Linked DNA regions of Homo sapiens. The protein of the gene in region 2 interacts with the protein of the main gene of each other region in a pairwise test. Each region holds a gene or a part of one and is shown on either strand. Other genes may lie near its edges. The genes, in order: CCDC30, BRAP, EFHC1 and NUMA1.

Region 1 (7,034 bases), on a different chromosome or scaffold from region 2:
GCTATTAGTTCTCACTTCTTTTGTTTCACCCATGTGCTTCACTATAAGCTCTTCTACATCTGTGGTAGCAGTCCTCAGCCTGTCTTCACTGTGCTGGCTGGAATAAGCACCAAACAGAGTTGTTCTTCTGTAGTAGCAAGGGGATTGATTTCTTCTTTTTCAAGATGGTGAAGTATGTCTTCTAACTGAACTTTTCCCTTGATAGAAGAAATAAGCATATGTATATGAACACACACACACACACAACTGAGGATGCAAGATATCTATGTGGGTGCCACCTTAGTCTCCTTATTAGAGTACTAGTCTTTAGGGTACTAGCAATAGAAAGCTAGTAAGCTACCTGAACCTTCATCACACTTATGTATGTGTATGTATATATATCTTGGAAAATCCAAGATATTTCTAAAGAACAAAATATAGCTGGCAATACACATACAAAGCTGCTATGTGAGGAAAACTGAAAGCAGGAATAAAGAAGTCTATGTATATATGACTAGAGTCAGACTCTCTACAATGTATATTTTACTTTTCCTGTTGTTATCTAGTTATGAGCACTTAAATGAAACAGCTGGTAATACCGAAAAATGTAAGCTTTGAACAACTGTGTATCTTCTAAAATAACAAATGACATGATATACTTAATGAAAATTATGTACAATGGAAAAAAAAAAAGCTTTTCTGTCTGTTCTAAAGTTTGCAACTTTTATCTGAAAAGTCTCCCAAAGGGCTCTTGTTTCTTTTTTAAAGTCCAAAGAAGTCTTTGTTCCTTTTATTGCATATTTAGAAATAAAAGGATTCCTCTGGAAGCTAGAGAGGCCCCTAATTCTATACTATCCAGGATTTATTTTACTCACAGAATATGTCTTATAATTTATGTTGACTTCTCATTAATTCAGTTCTTTTCTGCAACTTCTTGGTCTAAGCCTGCTATCAATATCAATTTTTTTAGGTTGCAAGTAATCATGACATAACAGTTTGCAGTATGACAGTATATGAAAGATAAATATCTGCTGATCGATGAAGTGATATCTGTGTTACTAGAGCCACTAACTATTTTTTTTTCTTTGAGATGGAGTCTACCTCTGTTGCCCAGGCTGGAGTGCAGTGGTGTGATCTCAGCTCACTGTACCTCTGCCTCCTGGGTTCAAGTGATTCTCCTGCCTCAGCCTCCTGAGTAGCTGGGATTACAGGTGTGTGCCACCACACCTGGCTAATTTTTGTATTTTTAGTAGAGACGAGGTTTCACCATGTTGGTCAGGCTCGTCTCGAACTCCTGACCTCAAGTGATTAAAACCACTAACTATTAATAGGACTTGCTGTTCTAATCAAATACAACTTTTAACCAAGTTAATCTGACCCAAATTGCAGTGACAGACATAATTGTTATTGTACTTCAGTCCACATAAATATACTATTTTGCTTTTTAAAAGCAAAACCATATTTTTATTATTTTTCTCCTTGATTGCTAAGTTTTCTAGAGTCTTACCATTTCCACATCAACAGTATTTATAGATGATAAATGGTTTTAATTATCAGCTGATACTCATACTGATGAAAAACACCCAAGTCTGAATCCTGCACCTCTGTAGGTCCTCTTCATGACATATAACTAAAAATTTTCTTCTGTTCCCCCGACCTCCTTCACCTGGTCCCCACTCATATCTTCCCCCTTCTCCCTACAAGGTCTTTGAGCATCATACAGTTATTTGTGGTTTTAGTCCTGGGTAGCAGAGAGCCCAAGATACTAAGAATACATAGCATCCTATGAGGACTATTTGGCAATATGGAAAAATGCTAAGAAATATGTGATAATGCTAAGAGAAAAAGCACAATGCAAAAGTATTATTATAACTATGTAAACACCAGACACACAAAGAAAAGACTGGAAGCAAATACCTCAAAGTGCTAAAAGCAGTTGTGATAAACTGATGAGGTAATTAGAAAATAAATGCTTAAATTATTATAAGTCCTGTACTGTGGGTTGCTTGCCCAACAGCATAATCCCCATGCTGTAGGGGTGGAGTAGGGGAGTCTAAGGTTGGAGGATGTTAAAAGGAAAAGGGGATCAGGATATTGGAAAATACCTTTGGATCTGATCCTTGCTGATCAGTAGGACGGTACAGGCTTCAGGTCAATACTCAAGTGCACAAATCACCCAAGCTCCTTCACTTGACCATTCTCCCAAAGCCAGTGATCTTTATGCACATTTTATTTAGCTGCCCATCCTCATGGCTACACCTGAGTCCTTATCAACAGCCTGAGCTAATGTTGAAACCCTGCCATCCTAAACTCCATGTGTCTCCCTCTAACACCTTCTATGCTTCTTCCCCCTTTTTCTTAATTGTTGTAAATATACATAACTTAAAATTTACCATTTTAACCATTTTTAATAAAATTCCATGGGATGAAGTACAATCACAATGTTGTCTAACCATCACCACAATCATTTCCAGAAATTTTTCATTATGCCAAACAGAAACTCTATACCCATTAAACAATAACTTCTCATTCCCCTCACCCCCAGGCCCTGGGAATCTCTATTCTACTTTCTGTCTCTATAAACCTGCCTATTTTATACAACTCATAGAAATGGAATCATACAATATTTGTCCTTTTGTATTGGCTTATTTCATGCAGCATAATGTCTTCAAGATTCATCCATGTTGTATCGCTAATCATAATTTCATTTAAGATTGAATAATATTCCATTGTATGTACATAGCACATTTTATTTATACATTCACCTGTTGATGGACATTGGAGTTGTTTCCACCTTTCAACTATTGTGAATGATGCTGCTATGAACACTGGTGTAAAAGTATTTGAATCCCTGTTTTCAATTCTTTGGGGTATATACGTAGGAGTGGAATTGTTAGATATATAATTCTATGTTTAACTTTTTTTTTGAGGAACTGTCCTACTGTCTTCTACTGCAGCTGCACCATTTTACGTTCCTACCAGCAATGCAGGTCTTAATATCTTCACATCCTTGTCAACACTTACTTTGGGTTACTTTAAAAAAAAAATAGCCATCCTAATGGGTGTGAAGCAGTTGCTCTCTTAAACTAAAAGAATTCTACAATTACAGTGAGACCTCCAATCTCTGGACCATTACATCCTCTCTCAAACTACCAGATACTCTTTGGCTTCACTTGTTTGCCCCTCAAGCCTAAACCCAACTGTTGATCATTTCAATCCTTCACCAACATCCCCAGTTATCTTACCCCTTTGTCCCACCTTCCTTGCAAATCTCAGCCCTGTAAAAGTTCATGCATTTGACTATTATCCACCTATTTTAGGTTGCTGAGTGCCGATAGAGAACAAAATCAAACAGGCATGCAAATCTGAACCATTACAAATTCATGGCCTCTGGTCTGAGCCAAGCTTCTCAACCGCTGGGTCATTTATGAGTTGCTAGTTTCTGTTACTATTTCACTCAGCAACTATTCAAAACTTTTACCTCTCCCATCAAACTGAATATCTCATCTCTCCCCTCACTCTTGGCAAATGACCTTGTCTCCCAGAGAACTAGTAAAACAAAGGTCATCATAAAACAGTCAGTTGCTTCTCCTCATCAACATACCAACCTTCATCTTTACCAATCTTGTCCTCTTTCCCTTCTCAGTGGAAGAGCTTCCCATCCTCCTGATCAAGGTTAATCCCTTTACCTGTATTCTAGGCCCCATCCCATACTGCTTCCTTAGGGAAGCATTTTCTTTTCTGTATGTTCCTTATCTCCTTTTCTACTGTTCTCTTGTCCTCAGCTCAAGACATCTCTGGTCTTAAAGATACAAGAAATAACCTTCCTTTAGCCCCACCATATACCTCTCTAGCTACTGTCCTGTTTTGGACAATTTGTCTCCCACACTCCTATACTGTGGCTTCTGTGCTTGGCTTCCACACTCTTACACTTGCTGCATTTTGCCTTCTGCTCTTACCATTGTACTCAAATTATCAGTCAACAATGAACTCAAAATGCCATATCCATAGCTCACTACAGTTTCAAACTCCTGCGCTCTAGTGATCCTCCTGACTCAGCCTCATGAGGAGCTAGGACTACAGAAATGTGCCAACATGCCCATCTTATTTTTAAAATTATTTTTTTAGAGACGAGGGTCTTATATGTTGCCCAGGCTGGAATTGAACACCGGGGCTCAAGTGATCCTCCCATTTCAGCCTCTCAAAGTGCTGGGATTACAGGCGTGAGCCACTGTGTCTGGCCCTGTTTTTGTTTGTTTTAACATATGATCTCTTTGCTGTACGTCTTCACTCCTTCCCTGAAAGTTTTTTTTTTTTTAATTCTGTTCTGTGATGTCACTTTCTCCTGTTTTGACTCCTATGTCTCTAGCCTTTCCTTCTCAGTATGCTTCCTGGGTTCCTCCTCTTCCATCCCTTCAAATGCTGCCATTTCCAGGAAAACCCTGCCTTTAGCTCTCTGCCCTTCTCACTACCATGTGATTAATAGCTTGGGCACAGGAGTCTAATATACCTTGGCTCAAACCTTGGCTTCGCTACTTTGTAATTGTGTGACTTACACAAGTCAGGTAACTTCTTTAAATTTTTATTCTGTCTGTAGAATAAATGTAATAGTAATGCCTACCTCACTCTGTTGTTTGAAAGATTAAATAAGAATCTCTCTCTGCTATGCTCCAGATCAATCTAGAAGAAGTGGCAAGAAACAGAAACACATTGAAGTTGGAACAAATACAGGTGAGTGTGGCAGAGACTGCTGGTGTCCTTTAATATTTACTATTCCCTTCTTCCACAGAAATAAGATATTTAGTGTTTTGACTGATCACAAGACTGACTTCCTTACTGATAGATACAGCCAGGTGACCAAGTTCTGACCAATGGGTGTAAATGGAATTATGTGGTGCTTCCAGAAACTGTCCTTAAGGAATGTGATGCCCCCTTTCTTGCTCCTTACTCCTTTCTACTAGCTGGAATTCAGACAAGATAGCTGAAGCTTGAGCAGCTATCCTGGGCACCATAAGCTGGAAACCACATGCCATGGATGCTATAATATCAGGAGAGAAGAAATCTGGGTCTCTGACCATTTCAAGGTGCTGCCCCACCAGTTATAGATTGTTTTATTTTTGACTTTTATGTGGGAGGAATACATTTCTTTCTTTTTCAACGCATTATTATTTTGGGCTTTCTGTCCCTCACACAACCAGCTAATCCCAACTACTATATGAGGGTTATTGAGTGGATGAGGTACAAGGACATATGCTGGAAACTAAATGTGGCTACACAGGAATTGGATACAGAACTACACAGCCATTAACAGTCTCTCCTGACCCATGAGGTCTTCTGTCTCTGAGCTTCCCTGCGAGTTTGCTCCTCTTGCTTCTCTACAGAGAAAAACTTCCTCTGCTTGCTCATCAGCAAGGCTGAAAAGAACTATTCAAGTCCTTAGCGAATGTGACTTTTTAGATTAAGCCATTTCTATCTTTGTATCTCTTAGTTCAAATTTTTGAAAGAGACAATTGTTTGTTGCTCACCAAATAGGCTGTGTCCCCCTCTCCAAAGTTACCTGTATTTTCCCCATTCAGTCAGTTGTACATGGAATGGGTTGGAAGTAGAGGTACAAATATGGCCTCTGAGGGCCTACTCTTTAAGCAAGATTTGGCAGACAGATCCAAGTTCCAGAGAAGAGGCTATAAGCTAAGAGGGCAATATAAAATGAGTCTACTGTTTAAGACCAATGCGTGTCCAGTTTTCTAGTGAACAACTCAGCTTGAACAACCCATTCATCTTTCCCTCCTCCTTCTCTATTTCATAGTTAAAATCACTGTCAACATAGTTTCCCAAGCCAGAAACCCAGGAGTCATCCTTGATCCTCCTTCCTATTCATTCTACTCTGGTATGCAACCAGTCACTGAATTTGCAGTACTTCTTTCATCATTTTCTAATTCATCCTCTCCATGTCTAGGGTTACTGCCTTAGTTTAGGCTTGCCTACTATTTGTTCAATTTAGTATAATAGCAACCTTAACTGATGTTCCTGCTGCCAGGCTGGCCCTCATCCAATCCATTCTCAGCAAAACTCCAGACTGATCCTCCTGAATGCAAATCACTTGCTGCTTAACCTTCTTGTTGCTTTCATGTAGAGTTCAAACCCTTTAGCTTGGGACCAGATATTCTTCACAATCTGGTTCCTCCCAGTCTCTCTAGCCTTGTCTTCTGCCGCACCTTGACATTAGCCATTCATGTCAGTATACTTATTGGTCCCTATCATGCTGCTTATATTTCCACAAATTTTGACATTCAGGTCACTCTACCTGGAATGGTGCTATGAGATCCCCAAACAAACATTTTCCCAGTGGATTTATTGAGACCTGATGATTAACTTTTAAATTCTAGTAAACTAGATCTTGAAGTAATAAAACTAAATTATAAATGCTCTGACATCTAAACTGTACCTAAAATTGCCCACACAACAAAGTACATAAGAATACTATTCTTGGCCGGGCGCAGAGGCTCATGCCTGTAATCCCAGCACTTTGGGAGGCCGAGGCAGATGGATCACCTGAGGTCAGGAGTTCAAGACTGGCCTGGCCAACATGGGGAAACCTCATCTCTACTAAAAATACAAAAATTAGCCGGGCATGGTGGCGGGTGCCTGTAATCCCAGCTACCCAGGAGGCTGAGGCAGGAGAATCGCTGGAACCCGGGAGGCAGAGGCTGCAGTGAGCCGAGATCTCAACACTGCACTCCAGCCTGGGCGACAGAGCAAGGCTCCATCTCAAAAAAAAAAAACAAAACAAAACAACAACAACAAAAAAACTATTCTGTCCAAAGTAGATACTAAGTAAATGCTCATTAAATCTCTTAAAAATCCAATCTCTGGAAAGAAGTGCATCCTGAAGTAGGTTTAGGCCTCCAAAAACTTCTAGATGTAAAGAATAAGGTGGTAAAGCAAACTGAGACAAAGAATTTTAAACGAGAAGAGGACAAGGAGAATGGGTGCAGTCTCCTTGTTTTTTCTCCTGGTAGGTACTCTCCAACTGCATTGCAGGGGCCAGGACCCTA
Region 2 (7,034 bases):
CAGTTGGAGTTGACAATTCAGTTCAGTGACGGGGGGGACTTTTTTTTTTGAGGCAGGGTCTCTGTTGCCCAGGCTAGAGTGCAGTGGTGCAATGTCGGGTCATTACAACCTCAGCCTCCTGGGCTGAAGCAGTCTTCCTGCCTCAGCCTCCCAAGTAGCTGGGATTACAGATGCCCTCTACCACGCCTGGGTAATTTTTGTATTTTCAGTAGAGACAAGGTTTCTCCATGTTAGCCAGGCTGGTCTCATACTCCTGGTCTCAAGTGATCCACCTGCCTCGGCCTCCCAAAGTGCTGGAATTACAGGTGTGAGCCACCACACCCGGCTACCAGGGAGAATTTCTTACCACCTAGTTCAGTGGCAGATCATTAATGTGTCCAAATAAACATGTCGTGCCTTCCCCTGCTCTGCCAGCTCATTTTTTCTTTCTTTCTTTTCTTTTTTTTTTTTTTTTTTTTTGAGACAGTCTCACTTTGTCCCCAGGTGGGAGTGCAGTGGCATGATCTCGGCTTACTGCAACTCCACCTCCTGGTTTCAAGCAATTCTCCTTCCTCTCTCAGCCTCCCAAGTAGCTGGGACTACAGGTGCACGCTACTACACCCAGCTAATTTTTGTATTTTTGGTAGAGACAGGGTTTCACCATGTGAGCCAGGATGGTCTCAACCTCTTGACCTCCCAAAGTGCTGGGATTACAGGCATGAGCCACTGCACCCGGCCAGCCAGCTCATTTTATCTGCGGAAGTGGATGTGTAGATAGTACTACATCTCCAACATGGAGGTGGTCAGAACTGGTAGGTTTGGATTTCCACCTTAGTAGCCCTGAATGTTTGTCCCAGTTAGGATTTCGTGATAGAAGATACCTGCTTGCATTATGGTATTGCCAAATGTAATAGCCATCCTTAAGTTTCTGAGGGTGTTAATGAGATTTTTATGGAGCAAAGAGAGCTTTAAAGTATGATGCCCTCATAAACTCAGCTATTCTACAAATAATAGCTGTTAATGCATTACATTGTAATTACTCTATCAAAGTTTATTCCTCTGACTTGAAATTTTAATCTAGTTCAAATCCTTCAGCATATGTCCTATCCATTTATAATCTGCTATTTTTTAACTGGTGAAAGATGAACTAAAAACTACAGTGGAAGAAAGGAAGTCTTCAGAAGCCTCCCCCACTGCGCAAAGAAGTAAAGATCACAGTAAGGAATGCATAAACGCTGCCCCAGATTCTCCGTCCAAACAGCTTCCAGACCAGATTTCATTCTTCAGTGGAAATCCATCAGTTGAAATAGTTCATGGTATTATGCACCTATATAAGACAAAGTAAGAAAACCCTCTTTTCTTGGGGGTTAGTCAATTTTTTTTTTTTTTTTTTTGCTTTGCTTTAGCATAGTCTCTTGTCCTGAAGGAAAGTGGGTATTTTAAGCTTCAAAATAATAATACTTTTGTCTGTTGTATGTTAGAGAATTCTCAGATGTTTTACATTTGATTAATCTTGTGGATTGGGTCAAAGCTTTTCCTTATAAAAGAAATGCTTGTGGATACACTTAAGAGAATATGTGGGAAAAATGTTTTCTTTTTTTTTTTTTGAAATGGAGTTTCGGTCTCGTTGCCCAGGCTGGAGTGCAATGGCGCGATCTCAGATCACTGCATCTTCTGCCTCCTGAGTTCAAGTGATTCTCCTTCCTCAGCCTCCCAAGTAGCTGGGATTACAGGTGCCCACCACCACACCTAGCTAATTTTTTGTATTTTTAGTAGAGATGGGGTTTCACCCTGTTGGCCAGGCTGGTCTTGAACTCCGACCTCAGGTTATCCGCCCGCCTCAGCCTCCCAAAGTGCTGGGATTACAGGCGTGAGCCACTGCGCCCTGCCAGGAAAATGTTTTCTTAGCAGATAGGCATGGAAGGTGATGGGGAATTGAAAGGACAAAGAAAATGATCCACAGCATCTTTGTAGTCTCATGTCCCCACCAAATCTTTACTGAAGAGGCTGCTAAGAAGTCAGTTAACTCATTACAATTTTATTACCTCTTTTTTACCATTTTCTGTGGTTCAAACAAAGCTTGCTAGAGCCCCAAGGAAAGGAAGCATTTGGCTAGATAATCCACAAGCCCAGCCACTACCTTCTTGGGTAATGGTAGCTGATACCTTAAGGCTGTTCTTGTGCTAACTCATTTGCCAGATCTCTACTGGGAAAACAGTGACTATTCAGGTAGCCATTTTGTTTTTTGTTTTGTTTTTTGTTTTGTTTTTTGTTTTGTTTTTTTTTGAGACAGGGTCTCACTCCATAACTCAGGCTGGAGTGCAGTGGTGCAATCCTGGCTCACTGCAACCTCCCCTCCCGGGTTCAAGCAATTCTCCTGCCTCAGAGTAGCTGGGACCACAGGTGCACACCACCACGCCCAGTTAATTTTTTTTTTTTTTTTGGCAGAGATGGGGTTTCATCATGTTGGCTAGGCTGGTCTCGAACTCCTAACCTCAAGTGATCAGCCCACCTCAGCCTCCCAAAGTGTTGGGATTACAGGTGTGAGTCACTGCACCCGGCACAGGTAGCCATTCTGGATCACAGCTGTCAAGTGAGTTTGCAGCATTTCAAAAAACAAATTGCATTGTGGGAGGATTTTCTTTCCTCTCTATTCCAGCCATCTCAACTTGGTAACACTTCCTGTAATCCTCAGTTACATCCTCATGGTTTAGAATTCTCTCTTGCCGGGCGTGGTGGCTCACGCCTGTAATCCCAGTACTTTGGGAGGCCGAGGCGGGGGATCACGAGGTCAGGAGTTCGAAACCAGCCTGGCCAACATAGTGAAACCCCATCTCTACTAAAAATACAAAAATTAGCCCGGCGTGGTGGCACGCGTCTGTAATCCCAGCTACTTGGGAGGCTGAGCAGGAGAATTGCTTGAACCCAGGAGTCAGAGGTTGCAGTGAGCCGAGACCATGCAGCAAGACTCTGAAAAAAAAAAAGACAGAATTCTCTCGTATATTTAGAGCTGTTTTTTTAGGCCTTTTAAGAGAGGTCCATAGCCAGAGTTGTGCTTTTAAGTTAACCAGTGACAGATTTTTTTTTTTTTTTTTTTTTTTGAGATGGAGTCTTGCTCTGTGGCCCAGGCTGGAGTGCAATGGCGCGATATTGGCTCACTGCAAGCTCTGCCTCCCAGGTTCACACCATTCTCCTGCCTCAGCCTCCCAAGTAGCTGGGACTACAAGCACCTGCCACCATGCCCGGCTAATTTTTTTTGTATTTTTAGTAGAGATGGGGTTTCACCGTGTTAGCCAGGATGGTCTCGATCTCCTGACCTCGTGATCCACCCGCCTCGGCCTGCCAAAGTGCTGGGATTACGAGCATGAGCTACTGTGCCTGGCCACCAGTGACAGATTATTATTCAAACATTGATGAGAGTAAAACACTGCAAATTTACCGAATGCAGATTTATAACCGTAATAAATGTTGAACTGAAGATTAAAAAGTCCAATGGGGGGTATAATATAGAACAGTTCATTAATGAAATATTACAATTTTTATTTTTTCCTGTTTTCTTGGACATAAAAGTTGTCTAGTATTGTTTAAACTAACCATACCTCATCTATTCAAGACACTCTAATTTTTTTTTTGTTAGTAAGATGACCTCCTTAAAAGAAGATGTGCGGCGCAGTGCCATGCTGTGTATTCTCACAGTCCCTGCTGCAATGACCAGTCATGACCTTATGAAGTTTGTTGCCCCATTTAACGAAGTAATTGAACAAATGAAAATTATCAGAGACTCTACTCCCAACCAATATATGGTGCTGATAAAGTTTCGTGCACAGGTAAAAGTTATTAAATTTATTAAAAATCTCTTTGCCACAGAAACTGTGGTATTCAAACTGTATGATAGCTGTGTGTGATTTACAACATTTTGCACTTAAGATTCTTGAGATGTCTTCTAAGATATAATTGTAATTCTAGATGTATTTCTAAATTCATTAGCAGAAATACAATTATAACGTATACACTTTTTTTTTTTTCGGTAGAGATGAGATCTTGCTGTGTTTTCCAGGCTACTCTTGGCCTCAAGCAATCCTCCTGCCTTGGCCTCCCAAAGTGCTAGGATTACAGATGCTCTGAGCCACTGCACCTGGCCTCATGCCCATGATTTTTTATAGATCAGATTGAGTATGAAGTTTAGGGTTTTGCAAGGAGGCAGAGGTTGCAGAAAGCTGACATCACACCACTGCACTCCAGCCTGGGTGGCAAGAGTGAGACTCCGTCTCAAAAAAAAAAAAAAAAAAAATCTAGTGTGTTTTTTTGTTTGTTTCTTTTTGAGACGAATTCTCGCTCTGTCGCCCAGGCTGGAGTGCAGTGGTGTGGTATCGGCTCACTGCAACCTCCGCCTCCCGGGTTCAAGCGATTTTCCTGCCTCAACCTCCTGAGTAGCTGGGACTACAGGCATGCACCACCATGCCTGGCTAATTTTTGTATTTTTAGTGCAGACAGAGTTTCACTATGTTGGCCAGGCTGGTCTCGAACTCCTGACCTTGTGATCCACCCGCCTCAGTCTCCCAAAGTGCTAGGATTACAGGCGTGAGCCATCATGCCCGGCCTGTTTGTTTTTTTAAACAAGCGGTAACTATTCCAGAAAAGCGGTGGTTCCCAGACTTTTTGAAGTTAACACCATCTTATTATTTTTCCATTACCCCCACTTCTTTCATTTTTTTTTTTTTTTTTTTTGAGACGGAGTTTCACTCTTGTTGCCCAGGCTGGAGTGCAATGGCACGATCTCAGCTCACAGCAACCTCCACCTCCTGGGTTCAAGCCATTCTGCCTCAGCCTCCGGAGTAGCTGGGATTATAGGCATGCACCACCATGCCTGGCTAATTTTGTATTTTCAGTAGAGGCGGAGTTTCTCCATGTTGGTCAGGCTGGTCTCAAACTCTGGACCTCAGGTGATCTGCCCGCCCCAGCCTCCCAAAGTGCTGGGATTACAGGCGTGAGCGACTGCACCCGGCCTCATTCTCTTTTTAGTGGGGGAAGAGTGTACCTGTTCTGTGATCTCCAGAGAGAAGCTTTAGTGTGGAGTTCTGTCTGCAAGAGAGTACACAGTTATTATGTTTTCTGTTTACAAAGTACCCCATCATTTAGGGAGACATTTAAAAGGTTTCAATTATCCTTTGGATTTAAAGTTTACAAGTTGACATTAAGAACAGAAAAGCACTTGAATAGCTCCTTTCACTGTCCATCAGAAAGCCTTCCAAGGGTGCCAAGGAGCTTTGCAAACCATGGGAAAATCGTGCCTTAAGCCATTTCAGTCTGGTAGCACATGTAATAATAAGGATAATGATGATAATATCCAACGTTTATCGATGGCTTCTGTATCACTCACTGTGCTAAGTGTTCAATACACTTTGTCTCATTTAATCCTCACTACAATCCCTTGCGGAAACTGTGTTGTTATCTTTGTTTTACAGATGAGGAGGGTGACTGCAGAGGGAGATACATGGTTTGCCCAAGGTTACATAGCTAGACATAAATGACAAGCAAGAGTGTGGCACCCTCACTTTTAATTCCAGGGACGCGTTCCTCTTCTAGTAGGAGTGGGATGAAGGTGTGGGGAAGGGAGGCGGTTGTTTGTGAGACATTCTATGACAGCAGTATTGTTACAGTTTCTACTTAACAACTAGGGCAATAAGCAAGTAACAAAGGAAAAGACCCAGAAATAGATTGGGAAAAAAATGTTGAAGAGCACTCAGGCTTTTGAAATAGTCTGAAGTCGTATAAATCCACCACAGTCACCTGTTTAATAAACCCACACAGTTCCCTATAACAAGTACTGCCCTTCATAATGTGCAGGTAGTACTGTGGATATTTACTGTGAATGAATTTTCCTTGTACATCTGCACTATCCTTCCCCTTGTGTCTTTTGATCAAGTGAAGGTTGCTCAAGTTGACATGTTTTTCTGAGACTGCGAAACAGGTTGCTGCATGCTCTTCCCCATGGGGCTAGAACCCTTTATCTTGGTATCATGAGTTGTATTATTTATTGCTAACTCTGGGTCTTAGGGGCTAATCCCTATCATCCTAACAGGGATTTTCTAATACCTAATAATACCCTCTTGGTGTAAGACTGGAAGTTAAACTAATATCGGCTGTAGTGAGAATAATAGGCTCAGTAGCTACCAACTCTGAAGCACTTACTAGAGACCGGACCCTGTGCCAAGTGCTTTCCATGCATTGTCTCCTTGAATCCTCTCAACGATGCCATGTTGGCCAGGTGCAGTGCCTCATGCCTTTAATCCCAGCACTTTGGGAGAGACCAAGGTGGGCGGAACACTTGAGGGCAGTGGTTTGAGACCAGCCTGGCCAACATGGTAAAAGCTTATGTCTACTAAAAATATAAAACTTAGCTGGATGTGGTGGCGCACGCCTGTAATCTCAGCCACTTGAAAGGCTGAGGCAGGAGAAACTATTGAACCTGGGATGTGGAGGTTGCAGTGAGTCAAGATCACACCACTGTACTCCAGCCTGGGCAACAGAGCGAGACTCTGTCTCAAAAAAAAAAATGCCATGTATTTTACAGTTGAGGAAACAGGCACAGATAAGTCACTTGCCTGCAGCCAAACAGCTAGTAGGTGTCAGAGTTAGGGTTCAAACCTAGGCAGCCTGACTCCATAGCCTGGGCACCTAACTATGTTTTTATTCTTTTCCTCACCACAGATTTTTAAATAAGGACTTATAAGCCTTCTCTTTATCTTTGGTAATTTTTGAATTTCTGTTGGCCTTAGCTTTAGCTGAAAGAGTTGTGAGGCCAGGTGTGGTGGCTCATGTCTGTAATCCCAACACCTTGGGAGGCCAAGACAGGAGTATTGCTTAAGGCCAGGGGTTCAAGACCAGCCTGGGCAACATGGCAAGATCCTGTTTCTTAAAAATTTTTTTTAAAAGATCAAAAAAAAAGGGGGGGTGTGCTTACCAATTTGTAGTGTGACCCTTAGGAAACTTGGTCTTTGGGTAGAGAATTTACAGTTCTTCAGGACATAGGAAAAGCAGAAGGAAGTTCAATT
Region 3 (4,391 bases), on a different chromosome or scaffold from region 2:
TGAGCAATTTCTTATAACTCTCTCTTTCTCTCTCTCTACATATATATATATATATATATTTTATATGTACACATTCATACACACACACGCTTATATGTATACATATAGTATGTATATGTGTATATATATTATGTATATACATATATGTGCACACATCTCTACTAAAAATAGAAAAATTAGCCAGGTGTGGTGGCGTGTGCCTGTAGTCCCAGCCACTCGGGAGGCTTAAATGGGAGAATCACTTGAACCCTGGAGGCAGAGGTTGCAGTGAGCCAAGACCACGCCACTGCACTCCATCCAGCCTGGGTGACAGAGCAAGACTCCATCTCAAAAAAAAAAAGGTTAGAAAAATGCTGCTTTTAGAGAGCCTGGCCTTGAGAGAGGAAGGAAAGACTAGTTGCAGTTACTATTCTCTGGTGAGCTCTGACTGGCTTTTTACAAACAGGGCTTCTCTTTGGTTGAAGTCAGCCACTAAGTTCATCTTTAAACATGCTATCTCAAATTCCCCGAAGCCACCCAAAATGTGGTATGAATGAGGATAGAGTTACACAGAATTCAGACTGCTTTGCCCTCTCAGAACTTCTAGGGAACTTCCCTTGGTGTTTCCTTCCCTAACGAGCTCAGCCACTTGTAACCAGCTTATTGAAAGGGCTGTGAATGTATTATGTTGATTCCTTTTCTGTTCCAGGTTATTATCTTGGGAATAACCCATGTTTTGTTTTGTTTTACCCTCAGTCGCTCATAACTATTTAAAACAGTATCTCTTTCAAGTACAGATGCTCCTCTACTTATGGGGCTATGTCTCAATAAACTCACGTAAGTAAAAAATATCACAAGTTGAAAACACATTTAATAACCCTGATAAGCCCATTGTAAAGTAGGCAAATAAGTTGGACCATTGAAAGTTGGGGACTATCTGTATTTTAGAAGTTTTTTCAGCTTAAAAATTACCAAGCTCTATCCTACTTGGCCCAGCTCAGTCCTTCCCCCAGGCTTAGAAGCCTGTGGTAAAGAGTGTGTGTATACTGGGGTGATGATAGTGGTTTCTTCTTACTCCCTTCTTTCTGTCTTCTGCTCCCTTTGTTCCTATTCAGCCATGCTGCTGTTTCTAGCCCATGTAGGCTCTGGGAAAGGTTAAGCGGGTAGAAACCAGAGAAAAAGGGCAAAGTCTTATTTCTGTGGCTAGTAATGTCGTAATGTGGGGCCAGGTCTGAGTGACATGTGCCGAAAGGCTGACTCTTTCTCCCAGAGCACCTTTTCTCTCTTTTTGGATTCAGGGGGTACATGTGCAGGTTTGTTACATGAGTATATTGCACCCAGGTAGTGAGCATAGTGCCCAGTAAGTAGTTTTTCCACACATACCCCCTCCTTCCCTTCCCACTCTGGTAGTCCCCAGTGTCTATTGTTCCCATCATTATGTCTATGTGTATTCAATGTTTAGCTCCCACTTAGAAGTAAGAACATGCAATATTTGGTTTCCTATTCCTGCATCAATTCACTTTAGGATAATGGCCTCCAGCTGCATCCATGTTGCTGCAGAATACATGATTTCATTTTTTATGGCTGCGTAGTATTCCATGGTGTAGATATACTTCATTTAAAAAATCTAATCCACCATTGATTGGCACCTAGGTTGATTCCATGTCCTTTGCTCAGAGCCCCGTTTTGGTGAGTTCTTAGAACTCTTTCCAACCGGAAACTGCCCAGTGCACCACTCTCAGATGGACGGGACCCAGTCTGTACCTGATCACCCCGGCTCTAATGGTATGGTCTCCAAGGCTCCTTCTGATCTTCCCAGGAGGCCCTTTCAGGCTGACACACCTTCCAGGGTGTGCACTCTCGCCATGTTCTCACCCAGATGGCTCTCTTGGCTGTGTAATTAGGCAGCTCAATCCCTTTCCTTTAGACTGTTTCAGGGGAGAACCAGGTACCCCAAATCTTATGCTCTCCAAACTCCAGGGGACAGACACATGTCAAACCCTGAGTCTTTTAAAGTATACCCTCACTTAGCTTGCAGACCCAAGGCACTCCAGCCCCTTTCAAGAAGCTTGCACTTTCTGATATTTTCTCCATCACTCTTGCCTCCTGTGGTAGAGGAGCTTTGGGCTACTCCTTAACAAATCATTCATGGATCGGCAGCAAATCTGCAACATATGGATATATTTGCCAATTTTTGTCCTCAGCTTTGGGTCTCAGCCAAAATGGAGATTTAGGAAAGTCTCATTTAGCATCCTCTAGCCTGCTTTTGGCTGTTTTGTTTTGTTTTTGTGTTTGTTTTTTAGAGACAGGGTCTTACTCTGTTGCCAGACTGGAATGCGGTGGTGTGACCATAGCTCACTGCAGCCTCAAACTCCTGGGCTCATGCAATCCTCCTGCCTCAGCCTTCTGAGTAGCTAGGCCTGTAGTCTCAGAGGGAACTGTCTTCAATAAAGTTGGCACTGTCCACATACACTCCTTAAGTTTGCTGTCCACTTCTTGCCTTGCATCTCCTTTTAAGTTTACTTAAGACTGAGAAGCTGAGATCTGACAGCACCAACACAAGGTATAAAAGAGATTTCATGAAAGACCAAAGCCAGCAGGCCATTTCTGTGGTGTCCAAACACTCGCTGCTCACCTGTTTATACAAAGCAGCAAGTATAGGAGCCACAAACGTCAGAGCAAATCACTTTTTCTACTAAAATCCTGAATGGCAGTGCAGCCATTAGATGTCACTAATTACCTTATGCTACAGTCATAGCTGGCATGCATCTGGAGTGTCAGGTTCAGGTGGTGGAAGGGAGCTGAGCATTACCCTGTAGCAAGCAATATTGTAGGAAGCAGAAATGATCATCACTTCAAACTGGCCACCAGGGAGTTGAAAGATTCTAATACACACACACACCCACACACACACACACACAAAGAGAGAATGAGAATTATTAAGATTAGCACTGGTAGCTGAAGCTATCAGGTCTAACTGAAGCATTTGACTAAGACTGCTTATAGTGCTTACGGCTTTGGGACTAATAAAAATCTGCCTTGCGGGTAAAGATGGGCTGTGAGTTAGCCACTACTCAGAAACCTGGGCCTGTACCTTGTCTGCACCATCAGGGGGCCTTGAAAATACCATCCAATTAAGGTGTATCAAATCCATATCTATAGGCTTTGAGGGTATTTGGGACACATAGGTAGAGAAGACGTCTCTAAATGTTGTCCAGAGAATCCACTTGGTTAAGTGACTCCTGAGTATCCTGCTGGCACATAAGTTCATTTTAAAAAGCCAATATGAGTGCTTTATATGTACCATGAACTTAGCATTCAGTATCTCTAAATCTCTCACCATGACTCCCCACAAAACATGAAACCCTTTTGACACAGATGCACAAAAAGACTCGGAAGGGTTAACTGCTTGAGTTCACCTAGCTTCTCATGGCAGAGCAGGACCCAACTCTACAATGAAGCTTGCCATGCATCAGAACCACTCACCTTCACCTCAAGCAAACATTTCCTCTTTCTCACACCCCATGGGTGTCCTTGACTAACTGCCACCTGTAACTGCACTCATCTTTTGAGATCTTTTTCCAAAGAAAGATGGTTCTGGTAAACACAGCAAGCAGCTACAGCCAACAGCAGCCATGTAAGTGACACCAGCAATCCCCACTATTACTAATACTTGGATGTCTTCTAGTCAGCACCAACATATTTGTTGGCCTTTACACAAACGAAACCCCATTTCCTCCAAGCTAAATAACATCATAGTATAGTAGGCATCAAGGATGATGTGCTTGTTTCTGGAGCTTCCTACCCACAAACCCCATGTTAAGAAAACCTCTTTTCCACTTTACTATTAAAGAGTCAAATAAAAATGATGCTTATTGCTATCCAGCACTTGACATAACTGACTCTCCATCCTTAATTCCCTAATTCATATCACAATGGACAAATACGGGTCAAAATATATAAGAAATGACTAATATAGTGAAAAATAATAGACATGAGGGCTAAAATTCATTGCAAACTCCTTTAAGCAAACGTAAACATCCACGTTAAAAGCATCACTGTATAAAAGCACGTCAAGGAAATAATTATGAGACAATTCTGATAATTTTCTGCCTTTTATTGTTATTTCAGAAAATATTTGATCATTTGTTCCAAAATGTACATTTAAAAAATCCATACAAAACTGTAATTTGTTTTAAAACCAGACAGAAACAGTGGAAAAATGATTTTGAAAAAAAGTTCACCAAAAGCAAAAAGACACCCCTCCCCCCAACCCTTTTTTACATGAAAGCATAAATACGGCAGGTACAAATTTTCCTTGAGTTCCTTGTTGAAATTTGGTCCATATGAACAGGCTAGAGTAGAAAACAGACACTTTGTCCACATTTGCATTATCAGTTGCTCAGGGCACC
Region 4 (7,034 bases), on a different chromosome or scaffold from region 2:
GCGGCCCGCAGCCGTTCCAGCTCATTGCCCATCTGCTCTGCCTCCCGCTCCATAGCCTGCAGCGCTGCCTGTGTGCTGCAGAACTGGCGTCCCTGTTGCTCTTCCAGCCACTCGGGCTGTCTGTCTCCTGCCCTCGCAGGCTCCTTGACTAACTCCCGGGAGGCTGTTTCCTGCTGCTCACCTGCCTTGCGCACCAAGGTCTCCAAGCGGGCCACCTCTTTGCTGGTGGCAGCCATCTTTTCCTGCAGAGTGGAGAGGTCATCTGCAAGCTTCTGGGCCCTGACTTCCTTCTCTTGGACCTGCTGGAGTGCTCTGGCCAGGTTGGCATGGAGCTCAGCTAGTTCGTTCTGCTGCCGGCTTATCTGGAGCTCGCTGTGGGATTCTATGCCTGCCACCTTCTCCTTTGCCTCCTGCAGCTCCTGGCGGGCCTTCTCACATTCCTCCTTCAAAGTCATCAGCTGTTCCTGGAACATGGCGCCATACTGTGCCTCCTCTTGCTGGCTATCCTCATACCGCTCACGCCAGGCAGCTACTTCTTTGACGAGCTGCTCACACTCACTCTCAGCTGTGTGCTGGGCAGCCATGGCCTCTGCCAGCTCCCGCCGCAGGACTTCAGTCTCAGCCTGATGGGCCTCCCCAAGCTGCTGTAATCGAGCCTCCAGCCCCTTGCGCCCAGCCCTCTCTTCTTCCAGCTCCTTTCGTTCCCGCTTATGCTGCTCCACCAGGCTTCGGGTCTCTGCCTTCAGCTCAGAGATACAACGCTGCTGCTCTTCCAGGGCATCTGCAGCCCTGCGCTTCTCCTCTTCAAGGCTGCCCTTGGTGACCTTCAAGGACTCTTTGAGGGCCTGGAGCTGCTCCTGGAGCTGGTCCTTCTCCTGGGCCACCCTTTCTTTCTCAGTTGCTTTTTGCTGCTCAGACCGCAGCTGCAACTCTAGCTCTGCAACCTGGGCCTGGGCCTCATGCTGTTCCTGGCGGGCTGTCTCAACACAGGCCTGGAGTTCCTCCACCTTCCGGCTCAGCTCTGCCTTCTCCCGCTGGGCCTGTGTCACTGAGGTCTGGGCACTGTCCCGGGCTTCATTAGCCACCTGAAGTTGCTGCTGCAGAATCTCCAGCTTGGCAGCCTTCTCCTTCTCCAGTGCCTCCAGCTGCTTGAGAGCCGCATCCCGCTCCCTTAAGGAGGCCTCTCGCTCCTCTGCAGCAGTGGCCAGTTGCTGGGCATGGTCCTGCCTAGTTGCCTCCTGCTTCTCCGCTACCTCCTTCAACTGCTGCTCCTTCTGCTTCAGGCTACTGCTTAGCTGCTCCACCTGGTGGCGGAGGCCCTGGGAGGCCTGTTCTTGCTGTTGGAGGGTCTGTGCTAGCTGGGCCTGCTTCTCTTTGGCCTGCTGCTTCAGGCCAGCCAGTTCTTGATCCTGTTGCTGGATGGTGGCATTGAGTGTGGTGAGCTCAGAGGTCAGAGAGGCCACCTGGGCAGTCAACCGGGCCCCATGAGCCTGGGAGGCCTGCTCCAGCTCTTCCTTGGCCTGGCTGAGGTTGGAGATGGAGCTCTGCAGGTCAGTGATCAGGCTAGACAGCTGCTGCTTTTCTTCTTCGAAGTGGCCCCGCTCAGCAAGCAGCTTGGCTTCCTGCTGGCCTCGCTCAGTCTCCAGCATCTCTACCCTGGCTTGGAGCTGTGTGTTGTTTGCAGCAAGAGTGGCTGCCTCTTGCTTCAAGGTTTCCAGCTGGTGGTATAAAGAGACAAACTGGGATCAGCATGACTCCTCAGTCATCAAGACTCCTCTGGAAATGGAGGAACACCAGGAACCCAAATGTACTGAATGTGAGTCCACACCAACCAGCAGCACACAGGTCTTTCTGTGCATTCCTACCTGCAAGACATCACCCAGCACCTCGCCCTTCTCCTGGGGTGGGTTATCCTGCAGCTGGGACAAGTGTTCTTCCAGCTGTGAAAGTTTTCCCTGAAGGATTTCGTTCTTCTCTTCAAGGCATTTCTGGGAGTAAATGAGACCCATGTGAACAGAGAGGGGGAACAGGCACCAGATTACCACACAAGCCCTCATAAACATCAGCAAACATGGGGCCCATCATCTTGTTACCAAGATCTCCTTTTGCCCTGGCCTAGAAAAAAGCAGAAACCATGGAACTGGGAGCATGAGGGACCTGATTCTCTAGACCTAGTTCTAAGGCACAATAAAGTCATAATGTAACCTGCTTACTACTTCCCCAAGGCTGCTGAGTTTACTTCAAATTTCCTTACCGTATACCCTTCCTCAGATAAGTCTTGAGTCCTAGATTATCCAAATCACCACCAGCTGCCCACCATCCTCTGGGCAGCAATACCACTGGCAGCAGCTGCAGCAACCCCCAGTCCCAAACCCACTTCTTCACCACTGTTCACTAAGCACCTACAATAGGCTATGCTGGGTTCATCCCTAATTTTTTTTTTTTTTTTTTTTTTTTTGAGACAGAGTCTCGCTCTATCGCCTAGGCTGGAGTGCAGTGGCGAGATCTTGGCTTACTGCAACCTCCACCTCCCAGATTCGAGAGCTTCTTCTGTCTCAGCCTCCCGAGTAGCTGGGACTACAGGCATGCATCACCACACCCAGCTTATGTGGGAGGCAGCTACTACCATTCCTCTTACAGAGCAAGAACCTGAAGCAGATGCTAAGTGCCTTGATCAAGGGCTACATGGTTATTAGTAAGTGGCCAAATTGGGTTCTTACCAATAGTAACAATCACAACTGGTTCACTGAGAGCTTACTTTACACTACACGATGTGTGAAGTGCTTTACATACGTTTTCTCATAATAGGTGATGAGGCAGCTACTCGTTACTACTCCCATTTTAGGGAAAGGATGCTTAGAAAAACAGACTGATTAACTTGTCCAAGATCCACATCTTGTGAACAGCAGAGATAGGATTGAAAGGTGTACTATAAAGTGAGGGCATTGACTGGGGAAAAAAAAAATAAGTTAAAAAAAAAAGGTGTACTAGACTGAAGCCCACAATCTTTCAATTACAGCACACTATTGAACCTTGAAGAGAAAGCAACTTAATACCCAAAGGCCCAGAAGAGCACAGTGGTAAACTGGACTCAGCTTTGCACATGTGGTCAAGACTGTGGCTGTGACCCCAGCAGAGGGTTACCTTGTCCTGCAGGGCTGCGCTGAGCTCCTTCTCCAGCTGGGCCTGCTTCTCTAGCCACTCCTGAGTGGCCTTGCTGTGCTCCTCCGTCAGCTCATTGAGGGCATCCTGTAGCTGCTGCAGATGACTGGCAAACTCCCGCAGCTGAGACGGGCAAGTGAGAATCCCCATCACCCAGAGTCAACGCTGACCCCACCACTGCTGTCTGCTCCCAGAACCCCAGGGGCTGGATGCCTCCAATTATCCTGCCAACCCTCTACAAACCAATCACAGCCATCACACCTCTAATTCAGAACTACAAATCAACATTTAGGGTCACAGCCCAGTACCCGGGAAGCCGCCAATTATGGGATAAGGAAAGGGGCAAAATATGCAGGTCTCTGGAGAGACTGAAGCATAAGACAGGTGCTGGGACATTCTTCTCAACCCTCTCTTGGGGAGCCTTCCAGACCACCTCAGCCCTGAGGGGCCTCCATGCACACACCACCTTAACACCCACCTTAAAGGAAAGGTCTCCATTCTCCTCCGAAAGCTGGTTGATTTTGCGATCCATCTGGCTCTTCTCTGTCTTCAGGTCCTGGCACTGCTTCAGGGTTTCATGCAGCCGCATGGTAAGGCTGCGAGGGAGGGAAGCAGTGAGAAGAGAGTATGGGTTCCTGGCTGGGTGAGGGGAGGGGCTGGGGCCTGGGAAGGAATGCAGGGAGAGCTGTACCTCTCATTCTTGTCACGCAGCTCCTCAAGCTCCTTGGGCTCCAGTGGGCTGGCCGCCTGCTTCTCATTCAGCAGGGCTAGGCGGTCAATGCGCTGCTGCATCATGGCTATCTGTGCATCTGCCCAGAGTGGAGGGAGGAGGAGAGGAGAATCAGAACTATGTGCATGAGCGGAACTATGTGCACAGAACTATGTGCACAAGGGGAAGGGAGGAGACGGCATAGGGAAGAGGAGGAATATGGTATCCAATCTAAGGGAAAGAGAAGATGGGGACAAAGACAGAACCTAGCTTCCAGGAGGTCAGCCTGACCACAGGCCCAGGGCTGAGCTCTCAGCTCCAGGGGCCAGCAGAGGGGACAACATGGGAGGCCAGGGGACATCCTTCCGGCAAGTCTATTCACACATCTGCCAGTGTGCCAGCCACCTACCCTTCTCGGTGAGGAGCTTGCGGTTCTCAGCTAGCTCCAGCTCCAGCTCATCCCTATTACTTCTCTCATCAGCAAGCTGCTTCTTCAGCCGTCTCATCTGGAACTGTGGGGTCTGCAGGATATCACCCATGGGAGAAGCTGGAGAACCTGAGAGAAAGCTGAGGAGGGAGAAGGCCCATATGCATTGGTAAGCGCCTAAGATCTGAAGCAATCAGCAACAGGCAGCAGTAAGGGAGCGGGGTCTATGGAAGTGCGCACTAGCAGCTGGGAGGCCTGTGCACCTGGGTTGTTTGCAGTGCTACCTCAAGCCTCATGACATGATCTTGGGAAAACTTTTCTTCTCACTGCCTTAATTTCTTTGTCAGAAAAAAAAAAAGTGATATATTCTCCTTGGCTCTGCAGAGATGTGCTAAGAGAAGAGACTTCATTGTAGTCTCCGAGGAAGAAGGGTATTCCATAAACAGGGAACAGCTTTTGAGGGAGGCCTTCTGCACATGACAAATCCCAACCACTTCCCCCAGTTAATACTGGGTGAGGTGAGGAGATCCCAGATCTACCGGATACTCTAAGCACTCCCAGAGGCTGGTTAACATCTTAACTCTAGAAGTTAGGAATGTGAGGAATGGATGGATGCTGAGGCCCTATCCCAGGAGGAGAGGCCCAGAACATACTTGTTCCCACTGGAAGAGGAGGCAACCTTCTGTAGCTCTAGGAAGCGAATCTCCCTCTTGGCCTGGTGGCTAGGTGGGGAGAGCTCTTCAGGGAATGTGCTAGAACAGGTAGAAGGCACAGGAGCTGGGGGTAAGAAATAGACAAAATAAATCAACAAAGGTTAGTAAGAAGGTGTAAAGATTTGCACCTTTATGCAATTTGAGAACTCGCCTTAGTGGGAGTATATCCATGGATACTTATATGTAAACTACCAAGGAAGGCACTGGGCAGAACCTGAAACCTGGTGCCTGGGTTATCCAGAGTTCCGTGTCTCTAACCAAAATGAAGTGCAGGGCTTCCATTTCTACAGAGCATCATTACTCAGAGCACAGTGGAGTGACGGTGTCCTCTGGCTCAGAAACTGCACCAAGTGCTCAAGCTTTTTCCTCGAGTCCACACTGCAGAGACGGCTTGGGGAGCCCTGAGCAGGATCTCCTTGCAGCCCCCAACAACCTTTCCTATCAGAGCCATTGGCCACCATTTGGAATTCATCCCCCCTGAAGCCTTGCACCTCCAAAATGCCCTCCTCCTCAAAACCCTTCTCTTTCCGTGGTTTCCGTGACCCCTTTTGTAGGACTCTCCTACCTCTAATCACCCATTCTTAAGTCTCCTCATCTGCTCCTCCCTCCTCTACCCACCCTCTAAGCTCCCAGAGATCTGATGGGGCCTCTTGGCTCTGCCCATAGTGCCCACGGCTTCAGTGGCCATCCAATGCTGACTTGCAAACCTATCTTCTGGTCCAGAGCCTGCTCCTGAATTCTGGACTCACATTTCTAACATCTCCACCTGAAGGTCTCATGAGGAACCTGAATACAAGGAACATCAAACTCAACGGCTAGAACTCGCCTAGACCTCCTTCTTACATTCCTATCATCCACCAGCTGACCTCTTCATCAGAAGACCAGCAGAACGATCACTCTTTCTACTGTAGTACCAGCCGAGGCCATTGATATATTCCGTACTTAGATTCCTTATCATTATTTCCTGGTTTATGTATCTGCCTTTCCACCTAGAACATGCACTACATGACGGGAAAAACATTTTTTAAAAGACTGTGGGCCGGGCGCAGTGGCTCATGCCTGTATTCCTAACACTTTGGGAGGCCGAGGCAGGTGGATCACCTGATGTCAGGAGTTCGAGACCAGCCTAATCAACATGGTGAAACCCCGTCTCTACAAAAAATACAAAAATTAGCCAGGTGTGGTGGCATGCGCCTGTAATCCCAGCTACTCGGGAGGCTAAGCAGGAGAATTGCTTGAACACGGGAAGTGGAGATTGCAGTGAGCTGAGATCGCACCACTACACTCCAGCCTGGGCGACAGAGAGAGACTCTGTCTCAAAAAAAAATAAAAATAAAAATAAAAAGACTGTATTCTCAGCTTCTAAGCCTAGAGTAATGATTGTTTAAAAAATAAAAAACAAAAGTAGGTATGATCACTTGTAAATATCCTACATAACTGCTGCCAGGCAGCAAGGAGGAGCTCCATAGGAACTGAGATGATACAACATGGCCCAGAAATCGACCTACTCCATTACACACACTTTTCCTGAGCATCAACTCTGCCTTGTGTTGGGGACAGAAACAAACCCCCACCATACTTGACAACTCAGGATCCTAGTATTCCCCATTTCAGAGATGAGGGGATTCTCAGGAGTGTGTACCTACTTACCTTTCTGTAGGAAGTTCTCTAGGTCCTCATTAAGGTTTAGCCCGTCCTCATGGTCCAGCACAAATTTAAGAATGACAGCCAACTCAGCCTGGGCCACAGGGAGAAAAAGAGCATCACTTAGGTGTTAGGCCTCTGAAGGGATGGCTGCCAGGAGCTCCACCCTGGCAGTGCCAGTCCCCGGCTCCCTCATGCCCTAGGAGCCTGCTGGATCCCATTCTCCCTCTCAGAGCTGAGGTCCTATGACCCAGCCAACAACATTCAACTAGAGATATGTTCACCCCACTTGTCCCCTTCCCTCCCACCTCCCCTCAAGATGTACCGAAGTCAGAGTTCCTGACTGACTTAACTCCTGACCACAAGTGAAGTGACTGTT

Evidence for each region.
Region 1: the proteins of BRAP (region 2) and CCDC30 interact in a two-hybrid assay, tested with the Homo sapiens proteins (one study listed by BioGRID and IntAct).
Region 3: the proteins of BRAP (region 2) and EFHC1 interact in binary tests that used the Homo sapiens proteins (3 or more experiments, as listed by UniProt).
Region 4: the proteins of BRAP (region 2) and NUMA1 interact in a two-hybrid assay, tested with the Homo sapiens proteins (2 studies listed by BioGRID and IntAct).

Annotation. Positions count from the first base shown.
Region 1 is NC_000001.11:42,466,285-42,473,318, reverse strand, and holds part of CCDC30 (coiled-coil domain-containing protein 30), read right to left. Parts: intron 198-7,034; coding exon of another isoform or gene 75-197; exon of another isoform or gene 1-74.
Region 2 is NC_000012.12:111,675,923-111,682,956, reverse strand, and holds part of BRAP (BRCA1-associated protein), read left to right. Parts: intron 1-1,121; coding exon 1,122-1,320; intron 1,321-3,616; coding exon 3,617-3,806; intron 3,807-7,034. UniProt on the Homo sapiens protein: Negatively regulates MAP kinase activation by limiting the formation of Raf/MEK complexes probably by inactivation of the KSR1 scaffold protein.
Region 3 is NC_000006.12:52,493,327-52,497,717, forward strand, and holds the end of EFHC1 (EF-hand domain-containing protein 1), read left to right. Parts: 3' UTR 1-3,872; downstream 3,873-4,391. UniProt on the Homo sapiens protein: Microtubule inner protein (MIP) part of the dynein-decorated doublet microtubules (DMTs) in cilia axoneme, which is required for motile cilia beating.
Region 4 is NC_000011.10:72,014,543-72,021,576, forward strand, and holds part of NUMA1 (nuclear mitotic apparatus protein 1), read right to left. Parts: intron 6,750-7,034; coding exon 6,662-6,749; intron 6,378-6,661; exon of another isoform or gene 5,784-6,377; intron 5,076-5,783; coding exon 4,952-5,075; intron 4,468-4,951; exon of another isoform or gene 4,439-4,467; coding exon 4,281-4,438; intron 3,972-4,280; coding exon 3,854-3,971; intron 3,759-3,853; coding exon 3,641-3,758; exon of another isoform or gene 3,286-3,640; coding exon 3,145-3,285; exon of another isoform or gene 2,817-3,144; intron 2,346-2,816; exon of another isoform or gene 1,989-2,345; coding exon 1,866-1,988; exon of another isoform or gene 1,719-1,865; coding exon 1-1,718. UniProt on the Homo sapiens protein: Microtubule (MT)-binding protein that plays a role in the formation and maintenance of the spindle poles and the alignement and the segregation of chromosomes during mitotic cell division.